2 linked regions of the Homo sapiens genome follow. The protein of the gene in region 1 purifies or fractionates together with the protein of each later gene. This does not show direct contact. Each region holds a gene or a part of one and is shown in the gene's direction. Other genes may lie near its edges.

Evidence for each region.
Region 2: the proteins of TLNRD1 (region 1) and ZNF784 purify together in Homo sapiens (co-immunoprecipitation; one large-scale study listed by IntAct). This does not show direct contact.

The regions. Positions count from the first base shown.
Region 1 is NC_000015.10:80,999,606-81,003,722, forward strand, and holds the start of TLNRD1 (talin rod domain-containing protein 1), read left to right. Parts: upstream 1-1,317; 5' UTR 1,318-2,536; coding exon of another isoform or gene 2,537-2,666; coding exon 2,667-3,755; 3' UTR 3,756-4,117. Other genes in the region: umcharacterized LOC128071545, read left to right, coding at 2,537-2,674. UniProt on the Homo sapiens protein: Actin-binding protein which may have an oncogenic function and regulates cell proliferation, migration and invasion in cancer cells.
Region 2 is NC_000019.10:55,621,767-55,625,904, reverse strand, and holds the start of ZNF784 (zinc finger protein 784), read left to right. Parts: upstream 1-1,338; 5' UTR 1,339-1,343; coding exon 1,344-1,421; intron 1,422-3,260; coding exon 3,261-4,138. UniProt on the Homo sapiens protein: May be involved in transcriptional regulation.

The DNA.
Region 1 (4,117 bases):
TAATTTATTAATAGCATGTCTCACAGTTCATTCTCAGAAATGCTTGGATATGGCCGATAAATTGAAACGTCATCCTAGTTAAAAGTAACGTTTTTAACTGGCTGGAGAAAGGTGACTTGGGGTTCTAGGAAGGGACAGAGGAACAAACATTCTGTTGGCTCAGCACGCCCAGCCTGTGTTGGGCTGGGCACCTTAGAGGACCTGTTTCAGGACTGCGTGACTGGCGTTTTGCTGGGAGTAGCCCAGGTGTTTTAACCACTTCCTGAAGAACAAGGTTCGGTAAAAAGAGGCTGGGGCGTAGGCGTGGGTTCCTGTCCCTGCCATATGCTGTCTTCCTGATCTTCGGAAGTCACTTCAAGCACCTGATCATCAGTTTCCTTATCTGTAAAACTGGAGTAGTAATGTTTCCCTCCAAACGCCGTCGTATTTAATTCATTTAACAGCAGCCACTATTATTCCATTATACAGACGAATAAATAGACGTTATGAGAGGGCAAAGTGCGCTGATCAGGGCTCATAATAATTCTAACAGCTACTGTTTAGGAACCAAGTACTCAAGCAGCCTGTGCACAATCTCTAATTTCTAGAAGAGAAGACGGATACTTGGAAAGAGAACTTGAACAATGTCATGGAACTCATAAATGGCTTGAGAAAGGCTGATCCTAGGAAATCTGCTTCAGAACCCGCGCTCTCACTGCATAAGGCGTATTTCAAGGGAGGAACGGGCAGGCATCTAGCACCACTCTTCGGACTCCCCATCCAGTGCTCTTTTCCTCTTTTCGTTACACTGCACTGCTGGTCGGAAACCCATCGTGGAAGTGGATCAAACACAACAAAGGGCAGGGGGCGTTGGAAAACCGGGCGAAGTCGCGCAGACCGAGACGACCCACCGGCCCCAGCAAATCACCAGGGGCCGAAATCCAGTGTCCTCCTCCCTTCAGCCCAGAAGCCAGGTCACCTTTTAGACTTGCTCTCTTGGCGGGGAGGAAGCGTGGAGCCCCCTGGTCCGGCTAAGAGCTTACGTAAGGCCCGCGGGCGGCTGCGCCCCGGTCTCCCATGGGTGTGCGCAGAGCCCCCGGGCCGGAGCAGGCCTTCCCCTGTCCGCTCCCCCAGTCTCTCGGCCCAGGACCACGGGGGAGTTCAGGACCACCGGCCCCACGCCGGCAGCGTCCGCGTTGGGCGGCGGCGTCCCCCGCAGCCACCCAGCTTCCCGGGGGAGGAGCAGCGCATCGCGCAAGCATCCGGGAGCGGCGGAGGGGGCGGGAGGAAGGGCGAGAGGAGGAAGCGGGATTTAAACGAAAGGCGGTGACGCCACACAAAAGATTTCTATAGGCTCCAGGGAGGTTACGGCCGAGGCGGCGGCGGCGGCGAGCCCGGGGGCGAGGCGCGGACGGGAACAGGAAAAGCCTCCGGCAGCCCCTGCGGGCGGCGGCGCAGCCACGGCCGCGCTCCGAGGTGAAGCCGCGCGCGGAGAGGAAGCGGGTGTTTTCCCCTCTGCCTTTCGGCCCCCGCCCTTCCTTTCAGTTTCTGCCCGCTCGCTCGGAAGTTGGCGGTTGACAAAAATGGCAGGAGCCGGGGCCCGGGCCGGTTGCCGCAGCGCCGCGGGGACCTTCTGAGTTGGCCCGGTGGCAGGGAGACTCGTGCAGGGGCGTCCGATGCGCGGGGCCCGGGGCCTCGGGAGAGCTCAGCTGCTGCGGGCCCCAGACGAGGCGACAGGGATGGACTTGCGTAGACAGCCAGCGCCGGGCCGCCGGGCGCGCGGTCTGGGAGGGCGTGCCGCCGCGGCGCCGGGCCGCGCTCTGTGAACCGGCGAGGCGGGAAGGGGCCGCCGTGGTGCTCGGCACGCCCGGGCGTGTGGCGGGCGGGCGAGAGCTTGAGCGCGATCCGGGCGGCCGCTGTGCGCAATCAGTGCAGGCTCCCGCCCGACTCTGACTCGGCGCGGCCGCGACAGTGCCGGCCACACCCTCTGCCCCGCTGCCGCCGGCGCCGCTTCCCAAGAGCTGGAGGCAGGAGATGCGCCCGGGGCGGCCGCGCGTCCCAGAGAGCCAGCCCCGGCCGCCGTCGCGGGGAAGTGCCGCCTGGTGGGGTCACGGCGCCTGAAGCCCACGTGCGCCGCCGAGCCCGAGGTGGCCTCGAGCGCGGCGGCTGACAGCACAGCCCGCCTGAGCTGCCTCCCGCGCTCCTCCCCGAGGAAAGGATTTTGATTTCAAAGAAAGGAAGGAAGGAAGGACAACTCCCAGCTTCCCCGTCCCGCCCTCCCCGCTCCGAGGGCCGCGCCAGGCCATGCCCAAGAAGGCGGCGGCGGCGGCGAACCAGCAGAAGGGACTTTCCTGGCAGCCCGGCGACGAGGAGCGCGGACAGTGAGTTTGCTCTGCCCCGGTTCATGGTTCCTGCAAGCCCTCTAGGAGGCCGAAAGCTGCAGCCCCTCCCCTTGCCCCGAAGAGCCTTCCGCGTTCTCTCGCCCTCGGGCCCACCCCGCGCCGCCCGGGCTCCCGCCGCCGCAGCCCAGTGCCCTCTGCCCGCGGCGGTGGATGGCATGATGGTGCGGGGAAGGCACCGCGGCCTTGGCCAGCTGAGTCGCGACGGCCGCCGGGGCGGCGGCAGTGGCCGCGGCAGCGGCGGTGGTAGCGGGCTCCCCAGCGGCATGCCAGTGCCCCCCGGGCGCGATGGCTAGCGGCAGCGCCGGGAAGCCCACTGGCGAGGCGGCTTCTCCGGCTCCTGCGAGCGCCATCGGCGGGGCCAGCTCGCAGCCGCGGAAGAGGCTGGTATCCGTCTGCGACCACTGCAAGGGCAAGATGCAGCTGGTGGCTGACCTGCTGCTGCTGTCGAGCGAGGCGCGGCCCGTGCTCTTCGAGGGCCCCGCCTCCTCTGGTGCCGGCGCCGAGTCCTTCGAGCAGTGCCGGGACACCATCATCGCGCGCACCAAGGGGCTCTCCATCCTCACCCACGACGTGCAGAGCCAGCTCAACATGGGCCGCTTCGGGGAGGCGGGGGACAGCCTGGTGGAGCTGGGCGACCTGGTGGTGTCGCTGACCGAGTGCTCGGCCCACGCGGCCTATCTGGCCGCTGTGGCCACGCCGGGCGCCCAGCCCGCGCAGCCGGGCCTGGTGGACCGCTACCGCGTGACGCGATGCCGCCACGAGGTGGAGCAGGGTTGCGCCGTGCTGCGCGCCACGCCGCTGGCCGACATGACGCCGCAGCTGCTGCTGGAGGTGTCGCAGGGCCTGTCGCGCAACCTCAAGTTCCTGACGGACGCGTGCGCCCTGGCCAGTGACAAGTCACGGGACCGCTTTTCGCGGGAGCAGTTCAAGCTGGGCGTCAAGTGCATGAGCACCAGCGCGTCGGCGCTGCTGGCCTGCGTGCGCGAGGTGAAGGTGGCGCCCAGTGAGCTGGCGCGCAGCCGCTGTGCGCTCTTCAGCGGGCCCCTGGTGCAGGCAGTGAGCGCCCTGGTAGGCTTCGCCACCGAGCCGCAGTTCCTGGGTCGCGCGGCAGCTGTGAGCGCCGAGGGCAAGGCGGTGCAGACCGCCATCCTGGGCGGCGCCATGAGCGTGGTGTCGGCCTGCGTGCTCCTGACCCAGTGCCTCAGGGATCTGGCGCAGCACCCCGACGGGGGCGCCAAGATGTCGGACCACAGGGAGAGGCTGAGGAACTCGGCCTGCGCCGTGTCTGAAGGCTGCACCCTGCTATCTCAGGCTTTAAGGGAGAGGTCTTCGCCCAGGACTTTACCGCCAGTGAATTCCAATTCTGTGAATTAGCACCCCACCCCCATACCCCTTCTTCCACCCCCAGACTAAAGGAAGATACTTACTCTCTGCCCCTCTCCATTTATACCAAAGAAATCATAGGTGAAACCCCCTACCCTCCCCAACGTTAAATGCTCGAGAGGAATCTTCCACAAGGCAGGGCCATGCACGCAACCTGCACACGCACTTGGAGGGCCCAGGTGTCTCTCCACCAGCCCCCATGCAGTAGGGACTGGAAGATATGTCATCTGCTGGTTGTGTTATCACTCCCACCCCCTACCCCAGCCCGTCTTCCGGAATTTCTCAACTAAATTTCATTATTGGGCAGGAAGGAGGTCATGGGTTCATTTCATTTTTGTTTTTTGTGTTTTTAA
Region 2 (4,138 bases), on another chromosome or scaffold:
TATACTAAAAATACAAAAATTAGCCGGGCATGGTGGCGGGCACCTGTAATCCCAGCTACTCAAGAGGCTGAGGCAGGAGAATCGCTTGAGCCCGGGAGGCAGAGGTTGCAGTGAGCCATGATCATGCCACTGCACTCCAGCCTGGGCGACAGAGTGAGACTCCATCTCAAAAAAAAAAAAATTATTTTAAAATCAAAAGAAAAGAAGGGAAATATAGCTTTGGAAGACCAAGGCAGAAGGATCGCTTAAGGCTAGGAGTTCAAGACCAGCCTGGGCAAGGCAAGACAGCAAGATCCCCATCTCTATAAAAGAAGAAGAAAGGAGGAGGAGGAGATAATTCAGCCTAAGTGGTGTTTATCTTTATTTTATACCAACATATCACAAAATATAATTTCATATATATTTATGAATGAAATGATCATGCTTAGGATCATGTTTAAGTATCTCCTATCCTGCCCTTTCAAGAAAACTATTTAAAGATGTTTCCAAACTCTTCCATGTCTCTTCTCAGTGGTTTGTCACAATGCTTCTACAGTGCTACACAAAAGAAAGAGAAATGGTCCAGAGAAGTGTAGTGACTTATCCAAGGTGATACCACCAGAATGACTAAACGGGGCAGCTAAGAAGAGCCCCGTCCTTGATGCTGCTGAAAACCCCGCGTTTTTGAGCTCTTTCCTCCCAAACATAACATCAGCTTGCGGGTTTTTGCGTCCTCCCAGGACCACCTGTGTTGCTGTTTACTGAATATTTTTCTCCACACTGCCTTTTTTTTTTTTTTTTTTGACAGAGTCTCTGTCACTCAGGCTGCATGCAGTGGCGAGATCATGGCTCACTGCAGCCTCGACCTCCCGGCCTCAAGCGATCCTCCCACCTCAGCCTCCCGAGTAGCTGAGAATACAGGCATGAGCCACCGCACCCGGCCTACACCGACGTTTATAAACTTGGCGTCATTACGTTGTCATGAGCAGTGCAGAGGTAATCACAAAAACGTTTACCGTGGAAACAAAGCAAAGCTTCTTCAGTTCTGCTGAGGTTCCCCTGACAGCCAGAGCCTCGAGTCGGCCTGCGTTGGTTTAGAAGGAACGTTCGGATTTGTTCCCAGGGTGTTACAGGCATCCTAGCGCCACACAGAGCGTACCCTCGGAGGGACAGACAGGTAATTAGAGAGGGAACAACTCACATTCTCCCGGGCTCAGCCGCCACGCCCCGCCCCGCCACGCCCCCTGCTGCACCACGCCCCCTCGCAGCCCCGCACTGCGCCTGCGCAGTAGCTCTTACGCCAGTTCGAGCCCCACCCCCTTTCAGAGCGAACATTGGCCTTGGGGGCGGGGCTTGGGCACAAGATGGCCGCTGCGCGCCCAGAGGCCCAGAGTCGGAGCTCACCGACTCCGGAGTCGCGATCCCAGGAGCCACTGGACCTGGTGCGGGCAAGGAAGGGGCCTGGGCGTGGGGCTCGAGGTGGGAGGAGGTCGTAGTGTGGGGGGCGGGTCCGGGGCGTGGCCTATGAGGGGGTGGGCGAGGGAGGTATTTAGTGCTATGGCCCTGGGGGTGGGGCTTCTTGTGGTTTCGCGAGGGGCGGGGCAGGGGAGGAGACTATGTCATGGTGGGCGGGGTGGGGGAGGGACCTATGGGTGGTGGGCGGGGCCTGGATGGGGGCGGAGTCTGAGGACGGTGTTGTCTTGTGGGACGGGTTTGGGTCCAGGGAAGGGGGCTTACCAGGGATAATTTGCATAATTTGGGTGGAGCCTTGTAAGGGGCGGGGCCTCATAAATTCTAGGGCTAATTCTAGGGTAGAAGGTTGGGAAGGTGACCCTGAAAAACGTGGGGGATTATGATTGGAGCACCTATGTCGGGGTAGGGGATAATTCTTCAAGGGTCTTAGTGATGCTTCTCGAATGCCCAAGGGAGAATTTGGGGGTAGAAGTGGGTGGTCTAGGTGACTTTGGAACTTCCTCCACGTTACCCCACTCAGAATTAGACTAATTGAGGACATTCATTCATTCAACAAACATTTACTGAGCTCCTACTTCGGCTCTGTAAATAGAGAAGTGACCAAGACAGACAAGGGTTGTGTTCTTTTGGAGCCTGCAGTCTCTTGAGAGGAGAGAGACAATAAAGGAGAGTTACTGTGATATGTTCTATAAAGGAAATAAAAATTGAGCCAATTTCTATAAATTGAGCCAAGAGTAGGGGTGGGGCAGCTAAATTTAGACGAGAGAAGTCAGCTGGGTGCCGGCTTATGTTTAAGCTGGGGTCAGAGAGATAAGTGGAGCTACATCGCCACAGATATTATAGTGACGATTTGGGATAAGTCATTTGGAGCCACTGGAGGGTTTTGAGTGCGAAAAATGACTTGATCTGATTTACATTTTCAAAAGACCTTCAGGCTATTCCTGGGAGGTGGGTTACAAGCCAGCAGAAATAGGAACAGAGATGCCCTTGGGTTTTTCAATTTTGGAGGCGCCAAGTGATGGGGCTTTAACTAGGGTGGAGGACAAAAGGTGGGATCCATGATATATTTTGGACAGGAGAGGAAATGTTGATGAGGATACAACAGAATCCTGGAGGATGGGCCGGGCGCGGCGGCTCACGCCTGCAATCCCAGCACTTTAGGAGGCAGAGCCAGAAGGATCTCTTGAGCCCAGTAGTTGGAGACCAGCCTGGGCAACATAGTGGGACTCCCTCTACATTAAAAATAATAATAATAATTTTTGTTTGTTTTGCTGTCTAAGATGGAGTCTTGTTCTGTCGCCTGAGCTGGAGGGCAGTGGCATGATCACATCTCACTGCAACCTCCACCTCCTGGGTTCAAGCGATTCTCGTGTCTTAGTCTCCCGAGTAGCTGGGATTACAGGCAGCAGCCACAACACCTGGCTAATTTTTGCATTTTTAGTAGAAACGGTATTTGCCATGTTGGCCAGGCTGGTTTCGAACTCCTGACCTCAGGTGATCTGCCTACCTCAGCCTCCCAATGTGCTGGTATTACAGGCCTGAGCCACCGTGCCCAGCCAGAAATAATTTTTTTTTAACTAGCTGGATGTGGTGGTGCATGCCTGTAATCCCAGCTACTCAGGGAGATGAAGTGGGAGGATCGCTTGAGCCCAGGAGGTCAAGGTTGCAATGAGCCACGATCGCGCCAGGGCAACAGAGTGAGGCCCTGTCTGAAAATAACAGAGGAGCCCAAGCTTTAATAATTGGGGCGTGCTGGGGCGGTCCTGAGGCAGGTTCCACAGGCTCCTCTTTCTTCTCCTCTTGCCCAGGTCCTGGTGCCTGATGACTGCCGGCCTGGCACACCCCCGAGTGACCTCATCGAGATCCAGGTGGTGAAGGTGACGGACACCACGCTGGTCCCTGAGCCCCCGGAGCCAGGTTCTTTCCACTGTGCCTTGTGCCCTGCTGCCTTCCGGCTGGTTTCCGAGCTGCTGTTCCACGAACATGGCCACTTGGCTGGGGCCGAGGGAGGCGGGCAGGGTGGGGACCCGAGCCGGTGCCACGTGTGCGGCCACAGCTGCCCGGGCCCCGCCAGCCTGCGCGCGCACTACAGCTTGCACACGGGGGAGCGGCCCTACCGCTGCGCGCTCTGCCCCCGCGCCTTCAAGGCCTTGGCGCCCCTGCTCCGGCACCAGCACCGGCACGGGGTGGAGCCGGGCACCTCTCGGAGGCCTCCGGACACAGCGGCCGTTGCAGAACAGAGGCCCGGGGTGGCCCCGGAGAGGGCGGAGGTGGTGATGGCGGCGGCGGCGGCGGGCGCAGCGGTGGGGAAGCCTTTTGCCTGCAGGTTCTGCGCCAAGCCCTTCCGCCGCTCCTCAGACATGCGAGACCACGAGCGCGTGCACACTGGCGAGCGGCCATACCATTGCGGCATCTGCGGCAAGGGCTTCACCCAGTCCTCGGTGCTTAGCGGCCACGCCCGCATCCACACTGGCGAGCGCCCGTTCCGCTGCACGCTCTGCGACCGCACCTTCAACAACTCCTCCAACTTCCGCAAGCACCAGCGCACCCACTTCCACGGGCCGGGGCCGGGGCTGGGAGACTCTGGAGGCCAGCTGGGCTCGTCGGCGGCTGAGGGGTCGGGGAGCGGGTGTGGGGTAGGGGACCCTGCGGAGGAGGGGCGGGGGGAGACCGCGAAGGTGAAGGT